Linked DNA regions of Homo sapiens. The protein of the gene in region 1 interacts with the protein of each later gene in a biochemical or structural test. Each region holds a gene or a part of one and is shown in the gene's direction. Other genes may lie near its edges.

Evidence for each region.
Region 2: the proteins of PPP2R2B (region 1) and SULT4A1 form a complex in vitro, tested with the Homo sapiens proteins (one study listed by BioGRID).

What each region holds. Positions count from the first base shown.
Region 1 is NC_000005.10:146,866,295-146,877,261, reverse strand, and holds part of PPP2R2B (serine/threonine-protein phosphatase 2A 55 kDa regulatory subunit B beta isoform), read left to right. Parts: intron 1-10,967. UniProt on the Homo sapiens protein: The B regulatory subunit might modulate substrate selectivity and catalytic activity, and might also direct the localization of the catalytic enzyme to a particular subcellular compartment.
Region 2 is NC_000022.11:43,836,529-43,847,495, reverse strand, and holds part of SULT4A1 (sulfotransferase 4A1), read left to right. Parts: intron 1-5,563; coding exon 5,564-5,694; intron 5,695-7,470; coding exon 7,471-7,551; intron 7,552-8,502; coding exon 8,503-8,629; intron 8,630-10,967. UniProt on the Homo sapiens protein: Atypical sulfotransferase family member with very low affinity for 3'-phospho-5'-adenylyl sulfate (PAPS) and very low catalytic activity towards L-triiodothyronine, thyroxine, estrone, p-nitrophenol, 2-naphthylamine, and 2-beta-naphthol.

The sequences.
Region 1 (10,967 bases):
TCTCTCCCTCTCTCCCAGCTTGTTCTGACATAAGCACTAGTGCTGTGCGGGCAGGAAGGGAAAGTCAGCAGGTGGAATCTCATTCTGCCTTTTGTGTGTGAATAGAGAGTAGAGGCATTTTTTTCCCCCAGTGCCAAAACTTTTGCATTTTTGCTTTCATTTTCTACCTGTAGGCCTTTTATCCTTAGCCACTCATACAAAGTGTTGCATTATCACATTGTAATATCCATGCGAGAAAATGTATGTGGAAATGCTTTAGGACAATGTTGCAAGGTGTATTAATTTAAAATTATTATTCTTGGATGCTAACATTTCTGTAATATTTAATCAAATCAAAAGACTGCTAGAGAAATGTGATGGGGGGAGTAAAAGAGTTCAAGCTCTGAAAGAAATAAAAAGACACACACACATCTGGGGGTAAAGGTGGCATCTTCTATAAACATCCCTGGAAGTTCTAGACAGAAAGAATGTCCAGTGCTATTGAAAGTATATTCTCCATTTGTCATCATTTTTGGAGAGCATCAAGCCCAGTATGCCCATGGTGCTAGACAGATAAAGCAGAGTTGTAAGCTCTGGCTTCCAGGAGCTTAGAGATGGCTTTTAAGATGTGCAGCCCATCCCTCCCCTATACAGAGCACCATACTTACCGATTCTTTTTCTGTGCATGATGGCAACCTGATTGTAAGATGTTCTCCCTCAATCTTAGTGCTTTGTCACTGACTCAGTGACCTGATAGCACATGACTAACTCTGTATCTAAGCATGTCATCCAAGAGAGAAGTTGGCCTTGGGTCTGTTGGCTTTTGGGGGAACATTTATTTCTGTTTGTAACCACAAAGAAAGAGAGCTGCCTTCATGTTTTCTTGTATATTACATTATGCAGGCAAGAGAAACTTAGCAAGCTGAGAAAATGCCCAGAGTGGAGCTATGTGTACAGGAGTGTCAATTGTGAAGTGAAGAAATCAGTTAAAAATGGCATTCTTTATTGTTTTCAGGGCCCTGGATATTACCGTTGTTCTTATTTTTATTCCATTTTTGAAAACTCTGATTCTGGATAGAATATCTAGGTTCACATAGTCAAAAATAGATATGAGTTTATAGCAATGAGATTTCTGGCATGTGAGAATCAACCTCTCAGATTTCTTTCTCTTTCTCAAACACACACACATACTAATCACACTCAAAACTAACAAACCTTTATTTCACAGAAGCTTCTAGGTTTTAAAATCTGATCTTAGAGAAGGTATGAAAAGAAAAGGAAAATAGAACTTAAACGATGTAAATACCAGAAGTTGGATAGAACAAGAAGTTCCCTACAGTTTTGACCTATTCGTTTCAGGGAAGATTCATGCAATTTTGTTGCCAGAGGGGGAAGAGTCCCTGTTCTTCCAATGAATTCCTTAAGAAGTGTTAGTATACCTTGAAAAAGCACCAGATCAAAAGACTTTTTAAAAATTCTCCTCACTGGGGACTTGCCCCACAAGTTTTCTTCCCCCTTATTAACTTATACCCTCTTACTGGGTGGGGAATTAGCTTCTAGTCCTTCCATAGATCTTGCTTTTCTGTTTCCTTTACTATTTCTACATTTTCCTCCTACCTGCTCAGTTATGTCAGATTGTTCTTTTTTTTCCTCCAAAATATCTCCTTCACATGTATTTCTGAATTTTTCTTCTGTTTGCTCAGATCATTCCACATTGCAGTGTTCTATTTAAAGCTGAAAGGTTTTTGCTGTGTAGTTAGTGTGAAGGACTCTAAACTCAATTTGCATTGTAAGTGGTGACTGCAGGCAAGTTCATCCAGCTAAGAGCAATGCAAATGCTAAAGGACACTTTCACCCAAGCTCCCCTCTCTCAGTCTCTTTCTCTCTCTCTGTCTTTCTCAAAAGAATGCATGGTGTGCATTTAATAAATAAATTTCCTAGGACTTTTTTTTAATTCTGAGCATGAAAATTACCACCCTCCCCTACCTTTCCTCCTCTTTTAAAGTTAACATCTTTGAGCATCTTCTATGTTCCAAGCACTGTGCTGAGCTCTTTATGTATAGCATTTCAATATATCTAAACCCTGTTAAATGGATGTTGTCATTTCCATTTTCAAAGAAGGAAACTGATGCAACTGAGGTCTGAAGATGTTACTAATTTGCCAAAAGTCACACATTCAATGGAAAACCTTGTCTTCAAACTCAAGCCAGTGTCTGAAGGCCAGGTTCTCCCACTAGGAAATTCTGCACTACTTCATTTTCCTTTAACCATCAGCTCTTATTCTGGGAAAGATTGCAATGGTTTTATCTCAGTGTATAAGCTATATTTCCATCAGGCATAAAATCCTTTGCAGGGAAAATTTGAAGTGTGTGTATGGGGTTATATAGAGGAAGGGCCTTGGGTAGGGTTGAAATTTCCCACAAAAATAAAGTCAACACAATGGTTTGATTTTTTTTTTCAGATATGGAACCCCAGGTTTCCTAACCAGGGATTCATCTCTCAAATCTCTCTATATGTGGGTTTCCTGCTATATTTTTAGGCTTCTGTTACAGCCAAGTAAAACCCTATCTCCATTATAGCAGTCTGTGAGTTTTCTAGATTAATCTTCCTACTTTCAAATGGGGCCACAGATAGACCAAATATTCTACATAGATGGGGTGTTTTAAAATAACTGCTCTGTTCTCAGTTTCCTTAGCTGGAAAGTGGGAATAACAATAGAACCTATGCCAAAGAAAAATTATTTGATGCAGAGAAAGCACTCAAGCACTCGGGATATGCCTAATACAAAGCCCACCCTTAATTCATTATAGCTGTTATTGTTACTTAATGTACTTCCTGGTTATATTCTGGCAACAAGTGGGTTCCACCTTCCCTCAGAAGCCTTTTTAAAAAACTGTCTTGTTTATACATATTAAAGGAAGAACAAGTTTACTATTCCAAGTAGCTCCTTTCAATTATTGATTCATTCTGCCTTTAATTCCTTCAACAAATACTGACGTTTTGCAGAGGTGATACGGGATGTTCCAATACAGACGTGGTCTCTGTCCTCAGGGATCTTTCAATCTAGCAAAGGAGATAGTATGAGACAAATAATTTTGCAAATAAATATATAGTTACCAATTGTGATAAGTGATATTTAGGAAAGGCACAAGATGCCTTGGGGTCATAAGGTGGAAAGGTGGATCTAATTTAGATCGGGAGTTCAAGGACAGCCTCTCAGACAGCTGAAACTGAGAACTAAAGGATGAATTTGCAATTAACAAGACCTGAAAGCATTTTAGGTAGAAGGGACAATAGGTACAAAAGCCCAGAGAGATAAAATAGCCTAACTGATTCAAGGAATGGAAAGATGACTATGGCTAGGAACAGGGAGAAGAGTGATAAAAATGAGAATGGAGTCTGCAGTTCATTTTGAAATGTACCAGAAGCAAGAAAGATTAATGCTAAGAGAGAGGGATGGGTAAATGGATAGACATATGATAAAGCAAGTATAAAATGTTAGTCACTGGCCAGCCATGGTGGTGTATGCCTGTAATCCCAGCTACTCAGGAGGCTGAGGCAGGAAATCGCATGAACCCAGGAGGCAGAGGTTGCAGTGAGCCGAGGTCGCGACACCGCACTCCAGTCTGGTGACAGAGCGAGACTCCATCTCAAAAAAAAAGTTAATAACTAAATTGAGGTGGTGGGTCTATGGATAATCACTGTAATTTTTTTTCCACTTTGCAGTCTGTTTGAATTTTCATAATAAAATGTTGGGGGAAAAAAAGACTGGAGAAGTATTCAGGGACCAGATCATATCAAGCCTTGTTGACCACAAGGAGTTTGGACTCTATCCAAAGATGAATGGAAAGCCATTAAGGAAAAGGGAAACATGATCAGATTTGTTTTTCTAGAAGTTTAATCTGGCTGCTGTGTAGGATGGGGTTAGAGAGCCAGGCATGTAATGAAAAAGAATGAAAGTTGGGAGATAATTAGGAGGTCATGGTGTGCTCCAGGATGGTGGCATCAGTAGAGATGGAGAGAATTAGATGGATTTAAGATACGTAATAGAGAAAGATTGCATTGCACTTACTTACTATGATTGGGTGCAGATGGAGAAGGTGATGTCAAGGACAACTCCCAGAATTTTGCCATGAAAATGGATGCATAATGGGGCGCATCACTAAAAGCGGAAACAGACTGAAAACTGATTAGTTTGAGAAGACAGTGAGACATCTAGTTTCACAGTGAGACTTGCAAGTAGACAATTGGATTTCTGGGTCTGAAGCTCAAGAGAAAGACCTGGACTAGATAATAAATTTGAGATTAAACATCACCAGCATATTAAAGGTACTTAAAACTGTATGAATAGATGAGATGCCTCAGATAAGAACATTTCAGGGCAAAATTTGAACCAATGAGTGAGAAAGTACAAGGAAGTGGATCTTGGCTTGGTATGAAGAAATTGTAGCAAAAAAGTACCTCACAATAGAATAGGGCCTTGGTAAGCATAAATAACCACACACTGATATTATTCAAGTAATACTATAATATATGGCCATTTCTCAGCAATGTGGTAGGATAAGAAGAGTCCAGTCTTGGATGAGTTGAGTTTAGAACGTCTCCAGGTTTGAGATCTGAGTGATTTGTGAAATACATTAGCTTTTTAGGGCCACAGAGAGTAAAAGTGAGGAAGTAAAGATTCCTCCTCCATCCCCCATTCCAAATAAGCTCAAGAAAGGGGAAACTTATAATGAATAAAGCTGGGAAGGTACATGAAAATGGCTTTTGATATGAAGATGCTGGGAAGGCATTGAAAAAATAAAAGGGGGTAGTGTCATATGATGGAGAGCTGCCTCATAGTTCCTTAAGTTGCTTTGGTATTTGTATGCAAATGCCAGATCAGAATGCTGTTTCCAATGCATATGGATGAATGTTTGAGCTCTCTGCTGTTCTCAGAGAAACCTGAAATGCGAGGTGAGAAGTAGCTGCCTTACACTATTGTAAATGACCTTTCTGGGGATGGGAAATGTTCTGCTACTAAACATAATAACCAGAATGCATTGAAAATCACTAGCAAGTATTCATTATTAGCATCCAGGTCCCCAGGGGCAATCCCAAGCCCTTTATGAGTGCTGGTCAGAAATGTACCAATGATCCTGGGGTGAATAATATTAGGCCAGTCCTGTCAAAATATTGGTAATGCCCAATGAAAAGAGCACAGCTGTAGACTGACATTCCTAGACTTTGGCGTTTGCATTTAAGAAGAAATAGGGGTCCAATTTCGACACTTAGCTGAGGGAAAGAAACTAAGGTATCGCGAGTACTGTCTATTCCAGGCATTTTCCTAGGTATTTCTTATGTTTACTCATTTAATCTCCATCAACAACCCAGAGAGAATGGTTGCATTAACCTCATTTTTAAAATAAGAAATTTCAAGGTACAGAGAACCAAAGGAACTTGCATAACAAATACACATGTATTACAAACATACTCACTTGTAAGTGGCATAACCAGATTAGAGCTCATGACTGTGTGGATTCTTGGCACATGTTCTTTGCTCACCCATGCTGCTCAGGATCTTTTGGAGAAATGCAAGTTGTGCTCCACCCTCCACATATATCCCATTGGCGCCTGGTCGGTGCTGCTGGATTTACTTGATCTATCTTCTCCTAGCACAGCAGTGCACGTCTCTGGGCCTTTTCCATTATCCCACAGGGAGGAAGCTGAATTCTACGACCCAGTAACAGAATTCTTAGCTGACTTACTCCTGTAGATTTCTTCTGTTATATAATAAGAACAGAAAAAAATGTTTATGGAATTGAGCAATCAAGATGTGAGAACTAGCTGGAGTTTTTTGAATAGCTTTCTCCATGTCACTCATCCCCAGTGTAGGACAGTAAGCATGCAGCTCCCAGACTGAGCTGAGCTGAGATGGTCCCGCTGGGCCATCTAGGCACCCACTCTTCCCAGCTCATGACAACTCATATAGTTGCCTGGGCCACAGCAAGAGAAATATGACGGAGGCAGCTGTGGGATGGCAGATGTTCTTTTGCACATAAATATGTAGATGTCTGAGGCTTCACTTTGGCCAGAGTGGCTCTCCAGCTGGTTCCCCTCATCTTCCATTAATAAGAAGACGATTTTGCTTTCACCCAACTTGTCATCTTTACCACCAAATTTCCTTCTTTTGACTCCAATAGAACTCTAGAATCAGGCTGAAAGTCAGCCCCAACATAACTATCTCGCAGAAAGCACAGATTATTTTTATAAGTCCACTAGGAACTTTGTCAGAAATAACCCAGGAACCTTTGAGTTCTCCTGCTCCAAGTTCACTGTGGAAAGAGTTAATAGTGGGAAATATTAATTGTTAATGTTCATAGCTTTCTTTGGAGAAAGGGTCATCCTGGGTAATGAGAAAGGGTGTGTGCTTGTATGGGGGTAGTCAGACTTTCACTTCTGTGCTTTAGAGGTAAATGACTTGATCGCTTACAACAAATGTTAAATGAAGTGGGGTGGGGGTCTGTGTGTAAGGGGAAAAAAGATGTATGGAGTTTAGGAATCTAGAGGGGCCCTTATGAACAGGTTTTAACCTGAGAAGGATGGGGTCTGTTGGACGGAGCGTGGCGAAGAGTACCTTACCTGTGGGAGGATGTGTTTCAGGTGTACTGGCCTTTGTGCTTGGTGTATTAGTCAGCTCAGACTGCATTTTTAAAAACGCCACATACTGGGTTGCCTAAATAACAGAAATTTTGTTTTCTCACATTTCTGGAGTCTGGAAGTCCACGATCAAGGTGCCAGCATGGTTGGTTTCTGGTGAGTTCTCTCTTCCCATGTATAGCCAACTTCTTGCTGGGTCCTCATATGGCCTTTCTCCTGTGTGCAAGTGTGAAAAGAGAGAGCGCAATCTCTGGCATTTTTTTTTCTTCTTGCAAGGGCACCAGCCCCATAAGACCTTATCCTTATGACCTCATTTAATCTTAATTATCTCCTTAAAGGACCTATCTCCAAATACAGTCACATAGGAGTTAGGGCTTCAACATATAGATTGGGGTGGAGGGGGGCACAATTTGGTCCATAACACTGGGGAACTGAAAACCTCCTCCATCAAGCATTGCTTATCACACTGGTATGAATCCTTGCTAAGCAATGAACCTGAAGTGGTCAAAGAATGGCAGGCCGCCTCCTCCACTTGACGTAGAAGGATCAGCTTGATGTCCCTCTACAGACACACAAGGGTGTAGAGGGTGGCAAAGCTGTAAATGTCTCTAATAGGGAATATTGTAGCAAGATGCTGCTGAGAGTTCCCAGGTGGTCTGAAAGATAGAACTTGGGTCCCTAAGTACAAAATACCACCAGGAAGGACCCTACCACAGTGGGAGAGCCACACAGGAAACTCAGTGAAACTAACATTGCTTATGTAGCTTTGTAGAAGTCAGGTTAGGGCTAGAGACACTCAAGTTGGGAGGTCTGTTGGTTCATGCCAACTGCATTATTATAATTCACATTTCCCTCTGCCTTTATGTTTTTATTTATAAGTCAAATAATACTATATTCTTTCTTACTTAAAAGGATTCAAGCATGATAAGTAAATAAAGCATGAATCACCCTCCATCCCATGCCCATCCCACTTTCCTACCCAAAGGTTACCATTATCAGTAGTTGGTAGACTTCCTCAGAGCCATCTTTCTATTCATACATTTAAATATACATGTACAGATATATAGTTGGGGAGGATGTTTGCATAAATGAGTACACACTGCCCGTTTTATTTGCACTTTGTTTTTCTACTAGTGATACGTCTTCAAGATTTTTCCATATCAGAACACCTACATCTGTCTCATGCCTTTTAATGGCTGCACGGTGCTCCATAGTATGACAGTACCACAGTTTATTTAGTAGTTCCCTGTGGATAGAAAATCGTTTCCAGCTTTTATATTACATAAGATGCTGCAGTGATTATCTGTGTATATGTGTTTTTGTTTAAATGTCCTCCTTCCTGATTTTATTATCTTTAAAGCTGAGATGACAGTTCCCATTTCTTAGCAAAATGGCAAGAAAAAATCAGAAATCTGTGGTCTTCTATTTGTTTTCTGTGTAACCTTGGATCAGTCATTTAAACCAAGAACCTGAATTTCCTAATGTAGAGAATGAGAATACCTGATCTACCTATTCATATGTGCCCAGTACTGTGTCTTCCAAAACCATTGTGGATTTGAATGTTAATAATTAATAATGATTGCTGGTAGTTATGGAGGGCTTTCTGTGCACCAGTACAGGCTTAGAGCCTTAAAGTATTTTTCTCATGTAATCCAGTTTACTTGTATAGGCTGATACTGTTCTTATCCCCCTTTAAATGAAAAGTTAAAGCAGAATAATATGATTACTAGTCCATAGTTACACAACAGTGAGTAGAACAGAAGTCACATCCAGGTCTATCTGATTCCAAACCCTGTATTCTTAAACTTGGCAAAAATTCATCACAATGTAGTATATGAACACCTGTTTAAAAGAACAGTTATGATGTTGATAGGGAAAAGATGATTCATTTTTCTAAAAAATATTCTTCTGAATCAATCAATACAAGGGTCCAATTTCTACCAAGGATTTGAAAATGAACTGGGGGGAAATGGAAAGGCAATGCAGTATCGTAAGCAGTTATGTGGAATGCACATCAGAAGACCTGGGTAGGATTCCAGTCCTGCTACCATAATTTGTCACTTTTATTCTCTGGGCTTCAGTTTCCTAAGCTACTATAATGAGGTTGAAGATGGGGGAGGGAAGGCATGCTCTCTACAGACTTTTCTGACTCTCAGTTTCTATGAGGCATTATTTCTGTATTTGTGATCATCTAGGTCTCTTTGATATGTTCTGATGTTCACCTCAGGGGTGAGACTGGGAAAACATGGCCATAGGCTTTAAATGACCCCAGAAATTCCAGGTCTGGCTGTACTTCCTGGGTCAAATCATCCTTCTGGCAAGAAGGTTCTGGTGCAGCCAAGAGGCAGAGCCAGAAAGGGAAACTTCTCTTTGCCAAAAGCTGCTGCAGATGGAGGAGCCAGTCTGTCTGGGCAGCCATGACTTTGAGAGGAGCCATTTGGCAAAGTTGTTGGCAGGAGCTGCCTTGCAGCATGAATGCTGGAGACAGTCCTGGGCTGGAGTGAATCAGGGACTCAGCAAAGGTGGCTGGTGGAACAAATAACCATCTGGTGAGCAGGGTGCTGCTCATCTTGCCACACTGATGGGGAAGAGCAAGTGCCAATCAATGAGGTTAAGCTCTCAATGACATGATCTGACAGGCACAATAGAATTTCTCTCCTGTTATTTTATACTCCATGGTGGGGGTTATAAACTCCAAGGGAGCATAATTTTTTCAGAAACCAGGAAGGCCCCAATTTCTTCCACTATTATAAAGTAGGAAAGAAAATTTAACAATTCAAACAAAAATTATTTATTGCCAAGTGCTATGTAGGAAGTTCTGGGGCATATGGTGAAGTATAAGCCTATAGTCTTGTTCTCAAATGTCTTTCCATCTATTTGGGCAGGTGACACTCCGTCCTTCTCAAAATATAATTAACCACAGAAGCCAGGGTGCGTGAAACTGTGTCCTGTTTATCTCTCTGTTATCATGAGGTGGCCGAAGTGGTGGAATCAGAGCCCACCTGGCTCTAGACACACCTCTGGCTATGCTAGTTCTGTGGCCTTGGGCAGGTCACTTCATCTTGCTGAGTGTTTTCTTGCCAACAAAAATATGGCAGGGGATGAGGCAACATGTTACTATTTATATGTGATAAATAAATAAATACAAAAGATTCCCTCTCTACTCCATGCATTTGGGACCAATAGTTGACAGTAAACTTGAAAAGTTAAGGCAAGGAGTCATAAAAAATAACATACCATTTAAATTTACTAATTTCAATGAAAGGCCCGATGAAGAATCAAGACCTTACCTTTGAGTATGGATCTGCTGATTAGGGGTTGTAATATTTTTCTTGCATGAACTGTCCCCCAAATGACAAAGACCATGCCCAATTTTGATTTCCTTGAGGTTGAACAAGACCATAGATATCGCAGAAGCAATCTTACTACAGAATACTTCTAGATTTTTGTAATTGTTCCCCAATTTTTATATCTCCTACTTTTAATTTGACAATGCTTTGTCAAGTCTTTTGAAATTCTTCAACTGACTTTTCATATGAAACAATCATCCTCCTTTTAACACTATTCTTCTCATTACCTTTCATGATATTTAATTAACTAACAAGTATAACTTGCATCAGGAGATTTGGAAACAAACACAAATGACTCTCAGTAAACATGCAACTCAACCTGAAGGAGCAGAAGTTTGCCTATGTACCAGAGATTAGTCTACTCAATTAGCTGTGAGTACTTATAAAGGATGTTGTAGGCCTGTTTTACAGAAAGAATGGAAGGCACTTTTTCTTCTTGGAGTGTCAGCTACTTGGAGGTCTGTTAAAAGGACTTCTGCTGTAATTATGATCATGAGGAAGAGCCACTATATACTGAGTGCTTGCAATGTAGCAGGAATCAGGTTAAGTATTCTGGATGTACTCTATGTGATATACTATGTATTATGTATCTATGGTATACTACATATGATGTATATATGATATAGATGCCTCTGTGTGCATATATATGTGTGTGTATATATATGTATGTATCTGCGTGTGTGTATATATATATAATTTAATCTTCACCACAACCCTCAAAAGTATGTATAATTAGAGCTGAATTAGGTGAGACTTTAGATCTTATTCACCATTGTTTATCCATCTCCTAGTATAGTATCTGGTGAAAAAGCACTCATTACACACTTATGGAGTGAAAGAGAAAATAGATTTCTACTTTGCTGATGATAAAACTGAGGCTTAGAGAATTTGTGTCATCTTTCCCAGTATCAATCAGCAGACCCAGGACTTGAATGCAGGTATGTCTGACATAAAAATATATGTTATTAAGAGCAAACTGACGTACAATACAATAATTTT
Region 2 (10,967 bases), on another chromosome or scaffold:
CAGGGCTCATGCCCATGCCCAAGGGCACCACCAGGAGCATGGAGAGAGACCAGTGGGAGGAGTGCTGGGTGCCACAGCTTGGCGTCTGGCAGAGGGCCTTGCAGAGCTAGGGCTGTCTTCAAAGCTGGGTTTGATCTTTGGTTCCAAGTGCTTAGAAGTGTGCCTGGAATGGGGTAAGTGACCAGATAGTATAATGACCATTTTTCTTTGATCATGTTATCACATCTTGCCAGCTGGCTTTATGCCCTAGGAAGGCCGGGGCCTGTTCCCTGCGTGTTTCGTGGTGTGTGTTCTCGGTGCCCCTCCCTCCCTGATGCCCACGTTGACCTGCTGTTGAATTCTCCTGGAAGCTGGAAAACGTAAGGTCAGGAGGTGTTCAACCAGGAAATTGATGTGGCAGGCTGGAGAGAAGGGCCACGGGGACAGGGCCGGGTGGACCTGACGAGTCAAGAGCTTCCTTTGGCTGATATTCTGGCATAAATATTTAATGGGGGTGAGGACGGGACTTGTGGAACTGAAGTGGCCGATATTGATGTAAGAAGACTTTAACGTGCAGAGAAGGTCTGTCTGGGTCGTTGGCCTGCGGGGCTGCACGGGTGGGGAACGTGAAAAATAGGTGATGAAAATGTCACTGGGAGAGGCCCATTTCAGGGACGCTGCCCACAGTCTGATTTCTAAGGACAAAGACCCCCTCACTGCAGCTGTCCTGAGCTGCTGGGTGGATGGTCCTCACCAGGAGGAACAGGCAAGGCAGCCACACCCTGGTTCTATAACCCTTGGCACATTTTGGCCTTAGCCTCGTCTGCCATGAGGATGGTGGTACTTCCTACTCAGGTTGGTGGGAGAGTCCATGGGCTGAGAAGTTCTTTGTGTGTATTGAAAAGAGCTTGTTTTCCATCACCAAGCCAGACCACTTCCTTCCTTCAGTGCCTTTGCTCCAAAGCTCCCTCCTCCAGGAAGTCTTCCTTGATCAACACATCCCCTTCTGATTACTCAGTGTCTATGCAGCAACCAGCGTTTGTCGGTCCACTCAGGAAATATGAATTGAGCATGGCCACATGCTGGCTCTCCTGGTGCAGCAAAGAACAAGACAAAACAGCCTCTGTCCTTAAGGTGGAAAGAGGAGAGAGCATGTAAAAGAATTTGCAGGCTTTTTCTGGGCAGGTAGATAGCACATTGGAATCGCATGACAGGGCGAGGGACGGGAGTTAGTCCCACAGCTAGTGAAGGAGACTGTGCTGACTGAGCGGCATCTGAGCAGGCGCAGGGAGGAGTCAGGGAGTGAGGAGGCTCCAGGCAGGGACACCAGTGTCGGCAGCCTGGGGAAGGGCCGGTTGGGCTCAGAGGCTGGAGGGAGCTCAGGGGAGAGCCAGGTGGTGAGGGAGTGGAACATGGTGAAGGCCTTGCGTTGACTCTGTGGGAGGCAGAGCTGCCTGACGGCGGCAGTGGACAGTGGTGGAGTCTGACTTCCATGTTAAAGCCACAGTTTTGGCCGCTGGGTTGAAAACAGGTAGAATAGTGGTCCCCAACCTTTTTGGCACCAGGGAGTGGTTTTGCGGAAGACAGTTTTTCCATGGACCCAGGTGGTGGGTGATGGGGATGGTTTCAGGATGAAACTGCTCCACCTCAGATCATCGGGGTTTAGTTAGATTCTCATGAGGACCACATAGCCCAGATCCCTCGCAGGTGCAGTTCACAATAGAGTTTGTGCTCCTATGAGAATCTCGTGTTCCCGCTGATCTGACAGGAGGCAGAGCTCAGGCTGGAATGCTTTCCCGCCCAGTGCTCGCCTCCTCCTGTGCGTCTCGGTTCGGAACAGGCCACAGACCCGTGGCCTGGGGGTTGGGGACCCCTGGACTAGAAGGCAGAGTGAGCTGGGTGGCAGCAGAGAGCCAGGGAGGAGCCCTCGTAGGAAGCAGTTCAGGTGTGAGGACGCAGTGTCACAGGGGGAGGGTCAGCTCTGGACACACCCGACGGCAGGGTCGGCGGGGCTCACTGAGGCAAGGACAGAGGAGAGGAGCCGGGTGAGCCACAGTGAGGCCACCATCCGGCCTGAGCCTCTGTCAGCTGGAGGGGCTGCTTGCTGAGACGGGCTGCGGATGCTGCGGAGGAGACAGCCTTGGATGCTGCCCCCAGAGCTGGCTGGGTCCCACTGAGGCGCTGGGCAGCGGGTGAGGTACTGGAGTTGGTGGGCATGTGCCCCGGAGGCTGATGTGTGGAGGGGTGGACCTGGGTTTGGCCTGGGGGCAGGGGACCAGGGCTGCACTCCGGGCTGTCACCACGTTCAGGGCGGGGAGATGAGGAGCCAGTGGCAGAAACTGGAGCCGCCGATATGAAGGGACCACAGTGGGTTAAGCTGTGCCCGTTTCTTCTGGGAGGTCAGACAAGGTGATGACTGAGAATCACTGGGGACCTGGAGCTGTTTTTGGGCCTGGGAATAGAGGCTGGAGAAGGCGCAGAGGGCCGCCTTTCTCCCTGGGAGTTACCTTTGGTCCCGGCACACTTCTGGTTGGGTGTCCTGCCTGGCCCTAGGGTCCTCGAATGGGACTCTGCACTCAAGGCACCAGTGCATGTGGTCAGCCCCATGTGTGGTCCAGGCGGGGCCCCGCTTCCTCCTGCCTGCACCAGGTGTGGAGCCGGTCACAGTGCCTGCTCCCCTGGGCCGTAGCAGGGAGGAGAGGGCCTGTCCCGTGCATCCCAGGGTGTGCACTGCAGGTGATCCCGGCCATCAGAAAAGGCCGACTTGAAGGGGCAGGGGCTCTGAGACAGCTGTGCCTAGGCTGAGGCTGGGAGGAGCATACAGGCAGAGCGGAGAGTGCTGTGGTTGGCCCTGCCCAGGAGGGTGCAGCCTGGACCCCGCACCAGGTGTGCAGAGCTCAGAGGGCCTCAGTAAATGATTGAATGCCTGGGCCTGAGTGTGTGAACATTGGGAAGCTACGGAAGGGTTTTGGGCTGGAGGCCGTCGGACCTGAGTGCGAAATGTGCTGTTTGTCCTAGAGGGACGGTTCCCAGACCCAGGCAGGAGGCCTGGCTCAGCCGCGTGGCTGATTTGTGAGGAGGGAGAATTGGTCCATAGGTCTCTAGCCCTGTGGGCAGCTGTGGTCCTGTGAGTGAGTGCCAGGGTGTCCTCAGCACACACGAGCTCCCCCGCAGGCCTCTCCCTGCCTTTAATGGCACGGCACGCTGGGCTTGCCCAGGCTCTTCCCGTTGGCCACATCTCCCCACAGTCTTAGGAGAGGAGGTTATGCTGACCAGGCCACTGGCGGGCGGAGGTGATTTGTCTCTTTTTAATTGAATTATATCTTACATGTGCGTATCAGTTGGAGAAAAGCCCTCAAACCGCTTTTCCTCTGCTCTCACACAAGAGTCAACACAGAGGCCTCCTGTGGCGGACAGGCTGGGGATTTCTCCCCGCCAGCAAGCAGGCACTCAGTCCTGCAGCAGCACCAGCTGGATGTCCCCCAGTCCAGTTCAATTCCAGCACTGCCCACCTGGAGACAGCACGAGATCCCACGGGGCGAGGTCTCAGTCCCACAAGACTGCCCCCAGTTCTGATGCCAACCACAAGCCCCAGGTTGTTTTGCCTGTGTGTCTCACCCACTGGCTATAAATTGGGGTTCGCACACCCTCCCTGCCCACGTTTGACTAATTTGCCAGAGCGGCTCACAGAACTCAGGGCAACACTGACATTTCCTGGTTTATTATAAAGGATGTTACAAAGGCTTCTGATGAATACCAGAGGAAGAGACGTCTGTGGAGGATGGAGGAGGGTACGGAGCTTCCATGCCCTCTCTGGGCAAGCCACCCTCCAGGAACCCCCATGTGTTCAGCTCTTTGGAAGCTCCTCAAAGCCTGTCCTCTTGGGCCTTTTATGGAACCCTCATTGGCTAGGCATGGTGGAAGCATGTAGAAATGGGACTGGACAAAAGGGCTGTGAGCCCAACACTGTCAGTCGGAGTGGGGAGCCCAGGAAGGCCTGCCTGTGCGACATTCCTTCCTCCCCTTCTGAACTGGGGGTCTCATGACCCACACAGTCAGAAAAGGCAGGTCAGAGAATTTTTCTTTTTGTTTTTTGAGATAGATTCTCACTCTGTTGCCCAGGCTGGAGTGCAGTGGTGCAGTCACAGCTCACTGCAGCCTCTACCTCCTGGGTTCAAGCGATCCTCTCACCTAAGCCTCTTGAGTAGCTGGCACTACAGATGTATGCCACTATGCCCAGCTAATGTTTTTATTTTTTATTTTTTGTAGGGACAATGTCTTGCTATATTGCGCAGGCTGGTCTCGAACTTCTGGCCTCAAGCAGTCCTCCCGGTTTGGCCTCCCATAGTGCTGGGATTATAGGCATGAGTAACTGTGCCCAGCCCAGAGAGTTTCTTCATAGCCAGCTCCAAGACAGAAAGGCGGGGGAAGATTCAAGTATATTTTCAGTTTGTATGGCCTGCCTTGGGGAGAAAAAGGAACAGGTGAAAGGGGTGGGGGCAGGAGAAGGTCAGAGAGAGAGAGAGAGAGAGAGAGAGAGATGCTGTTTACTGAGACCTGCTTCTAAGGCCTGGAGTGGTCCAATATTATGACAAAAGACTGTAATAAGGGCTGGGGGGATAATGAGCCAGGAGCCATAGATGGAAACCAGCACATATCATAATGTAGCATGCTTCCATGTAATTCCCACCAGACCCAGTTAATAGCTCTAGACCCCGGAATCGCCTTTGTGTCTTCTCTGAATCAGTAACCAACCCAAAATATAAACACTGTTCTCACTTCTGTCACTATAGTTGAGTTTTGCCCATCCTTGAACCTCATGCCAATGGGACATACAGGATTGTACCCTGGAGCGCCTTGGGGTGGGAGGACTCCGTCACATCCTGTCTGTGGGGCTTGGCCATGCTGTGTCTGCAGTTCCGTCACATCCTATCTGTGGGGCTTGGCCGTGCTATGTCTGCAGTTCATTCTTTTTTGTTGCTGTGTAGTACACCATGGTGACTGTCACAACTTACTCATTCTATTGCTGATGGGTATTTGTGTTTCCAAGTGACTTTATGAATGATGTGGCCAAGACTGTTCTAGAACCTGCGTACTGGTGGACAAGCACTGGCTTCCCTTGGGTGTCTCCCCAGGATAGTTCCTGGATCATGGGCTATGTGTATATAGCTTCAGTAGATACTGGGCAGACGTCATTTCCTCATCTTGGCTAGCGGGTCATTCCCCCGACCCATCATTCCTGCGTAAACTGCCAAGTTCAGCCTCAGGTTGGGCCGAGTCACCCACCTGTTACAGCCCCTGAGCCACTTCCATAACAGGGGCTGGGTTCTGTTCTGTTCTGTTCTCCTAACAGCCCTGTGAAGCATCCTGGCCCCTCTGAGAATCAGAGCCGACTGGCCCATGACCCAGCACGGGGGATTCAGGCTGAGACCGTGCGGGGCGCGCTCCTCTTCCCAGACTCAGTCGCCCTGGGCCCCACCTGGGGCTCTTGAGCCCCTTCTTGGGCAGCAGGTGTTGACCCGAGCACAGGGCCGGGCGCGTGGGCCTCCTCTGAGCACCCCGCGCTGGGGCTTCTCCCCTCCAGGCACCAGCTTGCTGCAGGAGGTGGTCTACTTGGTGAGCCAGGGCGCTGACCCCGATGAGATCGGCTTGATGAACATCGACGAGCAGCTCCCGGTCCTGGAGTACCCACAGCCGGGCCTGGACATCATCAAGGTACCCAGGGCCAGCAGCACCTGTCCCAGCACCTCTTTAGGGTATTTCTACCGTTACACCCTGATGATTGACAGTTGCTCCTGGGGGCTCTGTGGATTAGGGGAGAGCAGATAGCCCCAGATAGCCAGGGGAGAAGCTGGCAGGCCTGAGCTGGCAGTGACCTGGAACCCGATGAGGGCGTGGGTGACACATCAGCGTCAGGGAGTCTGTGAAGTGGAAAGGAAGTCAATGCCTGGGGGGCACAGGGCTGAGGGGCCATTTGTGGGGAGCAGGCCCTGGGCCTCCCCCTCGCTTTCCCCTGGGGGCCCTCCTCTGAGGGAGCTGGGTAGGATGTGTTTGCATCAAATATTTGGTATCAAGAATGAATAAATGTTACCCCAGAGCCCTGCTCCCCGCACCCCTCAGACACACCCACAGGCACCCCCACCCCGTCCGCTGCACCTCTTTAGTTCCAGCCTCACACCTGAATGGGCCAGAACTGCAGCCTCCACCACACCTGTCCTCCTCCCTCTGGAGCAGCATTCCAAAACCCAGCTCTGAGAGTGCCATCCCACCCTGTGTCATGCTCTGAGAGTGCCATCCCTCCCCATGGCACAAGACCCCTGTGGCCCTCCAGGGCCCCTGTCTGCACCCCAGCCTCTCGGGCCTGAACGGCCATTTTGCTCTCCTTGTCCGTGCGGAACCATCTGGGAGTCGTTCCGTACTGCCGTGCCGAGGGCCACCGCGTTCAAGGCACTGCTCTTGGCATTGGGGGCAGCAGTGACTGACAGCATCAGGCCCGGCCTTTCAGCCCAGGAAGCCATAGTAGCTAGCCAGCGATCAGCGCTGGGAGGGGAGCAGATCAGGGGGGGACCAGCAGTCTCCTCTGGGGATGTCTGAGGCAGGTCCTGAAAGAGGAGAGGAGCAGAGGGACCCGTGAGCAAAGACCCCACGGCACGAGGGGCCTGGCCTTCCAGAGCAGTAGGCAAGCCTGGGGGTTGCAGGCAACGGTTCCGGGCTCTTTGGCTTCATGAGGGCTGGGCCCATTCCTAGGGCAGCTGGGAAGACGGGCTCTGAGCAGAGAGCACGGTGCTGGCTGCTTTACAGGACAACCCTGGCTGCTGATGGGAAGGCCCGAGGGGCAGGTGGAAGCAGTGAGCGCATCAGGCCAGGTTGCTGTGCGGTCCAGCGCCAGCCTGGCAGCACCCACTGGGGCTGGTGCCTCCTGCTGCCTCTGCTGCCCTCCGACGCCACTCCAAGCCGGGGCAGTAGCTCCCAGGCCCCCTGAGCAGATCCTGTGGCTGTGGCTATGATGGGTGGACTCCCCAGGCCAAAGTCAAGGACCCTTGTCTCTACCGCCAGGGTCCAGCCGGGGTGTGCTCATGTCTCCAATCTTTGTCTCAGGTGACAAGGGAGGCTGTCCTGGCTGGGTCCGAGACTCTCTCCAGGACAGGAGACCAGGGCATGACAGCCTTGCCTCCTCTTGCTCTGACCCCTCCCTACTCCTGGCCTCACCTTTCCCTCTGACCCCTACCGTTCTCCCCTGGCCCCCACCCCTTCCCTCGTCCTCTGGTCCCCCTGCTCCTGGCCTTACCCCTCCCTCTGGCCTCACCCCTCCCTCTTACCTGACGCTCTCCTGACCCCTCCGCTACCCTAGACCCGCCGTTCCCTCTGATAACTCCACTTCCCCTGAACCCCACCCCTTCCTTCCTCCTCTGGCCCCCTTCCCCTTGGCCCCACTCCTCCCCTTGGTCTCACCCTTTCCTCTGACCTGCCTCTCCCTCTGACTCCACGCAGGAACTGACCTCTCCCCGCCTCATCAAGAGCCACCTGCCCTACCGCTTTCTGCCCTCTGACCTCCACAATGGAGACTCCAAGGTAAGCTGGCACCTCCTCTGCCTCCCGAGATGAGTCCCCACCAAGAGGAGCCCAAGGTCCCTGTGCAATACACATGCAGGTCCCTGGCACTTACCTGGCCTTGGGGGCTGTCTTCCCAAGGAGCCCACACGTGAAGATCCCTTCTGAGGTGGTCTTGGGTCATGCGTCTCTAGCATTTTACCCAAGTTTTTAACGACGGGTTGGTTTTTACCTCACAGTCAAACATGGCTGTGGCCAGCCTAATCCAAAGCAGGCCAGCAGGCGTGTACCTGCTTTGGGCCGAATTCTCTTTGTTTTTCAATTGCATCAAATGCCAAGGCCTGTGGGGTTTTTTTGTTTGTTTGTTTTTTTGTTTTTGAGACGGAGTCTTAGTCTGTCGCCCAGGCTGGAGTGCAGTGGCATGGCTCACTGCAACCTCTGCCTCCCTGGTTCAAGCGATTCTCCTGCCTCAGCCTCCTGAGTAGCTGGGACTACAGGCATGTGCCACCACACCCGGCTAATTTTTCTATTTTTGGTAGAGACAGGGTTTCACCATGTTGGTCAGGCTGGTCTTGAACTACTGACCTCAGGTGATCTACCCACCTCGGCCTCCCAAAGTGCTGGGATTACAGATGCGAGCCACCGCACCCGGCCAGAGGCCTGTGTTCTTACCACCAGGATCAGGGTTGTAAGTTTTTTGTCTTCTGCAGATTTTAAAGTAGTTCTAGAGGACAGAAATAAAATGCTCAAGTAATTTTCCTGGCCAGCTCTACTGCATGGACAGGGCACCTTTCTGCTGAAACAGCGAAGCAGCAGCACCCAGCAGCCGTGCACATGGGCCCCAGCTGGACGCTGGAAGCAGGTGTTGGTTTGTGAGGTGCACCAGCAGGTTCAGGGAGGCTGGCCTGTGTCGGGGCAGCCCTGCCTGGGAGGGAAGGAGACACGGACTCATCCTGCTCCTGTCACCCACAGGTCATCTATATGGCTCGCAACCCCAAGGATCTGGTGGTGTCTTATTATCAGTTCCACCGCTCTCTGCGGACCATGAGCTACCGAGGCACCTTTCAAGAATTCTGCCGGAGGTTTATGAATGATAAGCGTGAGTGTTGCAGCCTGGCGGCATGTTAGAACCGGAGCCGTCTGTTGTCGTGGACGGCCTGGCAGGTGCTGGGTGCTTCCCCGACACGGTCTCCAGTTCTGACAGTGACCATGTAGGTCAGGCCCGCGGTCACTTTACAGATGAAGACACTGAGGCCGAGGGTCGTGAACGTGGCCGAGATCCTAGAGCTGGTGTGTGTCAGAGCAGGTCCATCTGAACCCAGAGCCCTTCTCTTCTACCACACTGTCGGGGTGTCTGAGAAGTTCCCCAGTTAAAACATCCATCCTTCCTACCTGGGTTTCAAACAGGGAGAGAATGAAAACAGTAAAAATGGAGGCCCAGGTATCACTACTGTTAGTGATAGGGCCTGGAGTGGAGACTGGAGCTAAGTGTGACAGGCATGGGCCTTTGGCTGAACCTCAGGCACAGGCAAGCTACTGGGGCAGGGCACACTTGTGCCCGCTGGGAGGAGGACAGCCGGGCTGAACCTCAGGCACAGGCAAGCCTCCGGGGCAGGGCACACTTGTGCCCGCAGGGAGGAGGACAGCCGGGCCGAGAGTGCCATGTGCTGTTCTCTGGCTTCCATTCCAGCCCCTGAGGAGGAGCGAGGCTGGGTTCCACCCTGCCCTGCTCTCAAGGAAGGCGGGACCAGGCCTCTTGTCTTGGTCCCACTCGCTCCCAGTCCTTACTCTCTTGCCCCGCTGGGCCACCTTTCCCTTGGGAGTGGTGGCAGAGCTCCTCAGTGCAGTTCTGTTCCTGCCTTCCTGAGGGGGCTCCCCATGGCCAGCCATGGCTTTGGGAGGTCCTGGGACAGAAAGTGGGCAGTGTAGGGTGTGCAGGCAGAGGAGCTTTGAAATGTGTCATAATAGCTGCACTTTAATTAAATCTACACTGAGACTCTTCCCTACCCAAGGCTGAAAATACACTTTCTGTTTTATTTCCCAACGGAAGTGATGCTGAGCCGCATTGTTCAGTGTGGCTTATCGGGGGCTCTGCAGGGGGCTTATGTGACAGGATGAGGATGAATCATGTAGCAGAGATCCTGGAACGTAATGCCCTCGAGTTTAAGTGGAACTTAGGGCAGTGGACCTAGAGCTGCTGCCAGGCCTGGTTGAAGGGGACCTCTTGGCGGGGCGGTGCAGGGCGCCACAGGCTGACTCTGTTGCTTGCAGTTTGAAAACCCACGAGGGCCTCAAAGCCCTGGGATGATTCTGTTTCCTGCCCTTGAGCCTCTGCTTCCACTGTGCCTGCTGAGAAGTGGCCCTGCCTGCAAGGGGTAGGAGGCCCCAGACCGCACCCTGAAGCCCCCTGAGCCTGCTCTGGGCCTTCTGTCCAGCCCCTCTTCCCATGGCCTCTTGGCCCTGGCACCTGCTCTTGTGGTCCACCAGGCATTTGGAGCAACCCACTCATGGACTTCTGAAGCTGTTTCCTAGGGTCCAGCATGGACTCTGCTCTCTGCAGAGCATGGGGACAACACCCACATTCAGACCAGCACGTGGAAGAGGCTACAAACATCTTGCTCAGGCCAGAGCAGTTAACAGTTCTCTTAATATAGGCCTCTCCATGTCACCACAGTCACAGACCCATCCTCCACTGAGTGCAAGGTCCCACACACGTGCCTTGGTCCCAGCAAACCCTGTAGACAGGCCCACTCAGCACCCCTGTGCTCCGTCCTTCATTGTCACTCAGTGAGCACGCACATACTGAGGACCGCTGGACCCCCTCCCTGATGTCCTGAAGACGGTGGAAACTAATATGCACGGGAACCCTGAAAGCACACCATGTCCAGACAGGCCAGGATCAGAGGCCACAGCACAGGGCAACAGCAGGAGGGTCCTGCATAAACAACCACGCGTGAGCCTGGTGACCAGCTCTGCGAGGCTGGAGGGCAAAGGGCCCTGGAGGCAGGTGACACCTGCAGTGTGAGGATGCCCCGTGACAGGCTTCCTGTGACACCTGCAGTGTGCGGACGCTGTGTAGACAGGCTCCCTGTGGCACCTGCAGTGTCAGGACGCTGTGTAGGCTGGGTCCCTGTGGCACCTGCAGTGTGAGGACGCTGTGTAGACTGGGTCCCTGTGGCACCTGCAGTGTGAGGACGCTGTGTAGACAGGGTCCCTGTGGCACCTGCAGTGTGAGGATGCTGTGTAGACTGGGTCCCTGTGGAGCCTTCAGTTTGATGTGTAGACAGGCTCCCTGTGGCACCTGCAGTTGGAGGACGCTGTGTAGACAGGATCCCTGTGGCACCTGCAGTGTGAGGACGCTGTGTAGACAGGGTCCCTGTGGCACCTGCAGTTGGAGGACGCTGTGTAGACAGGATCCCTGTGGCACCTGCAGTGTG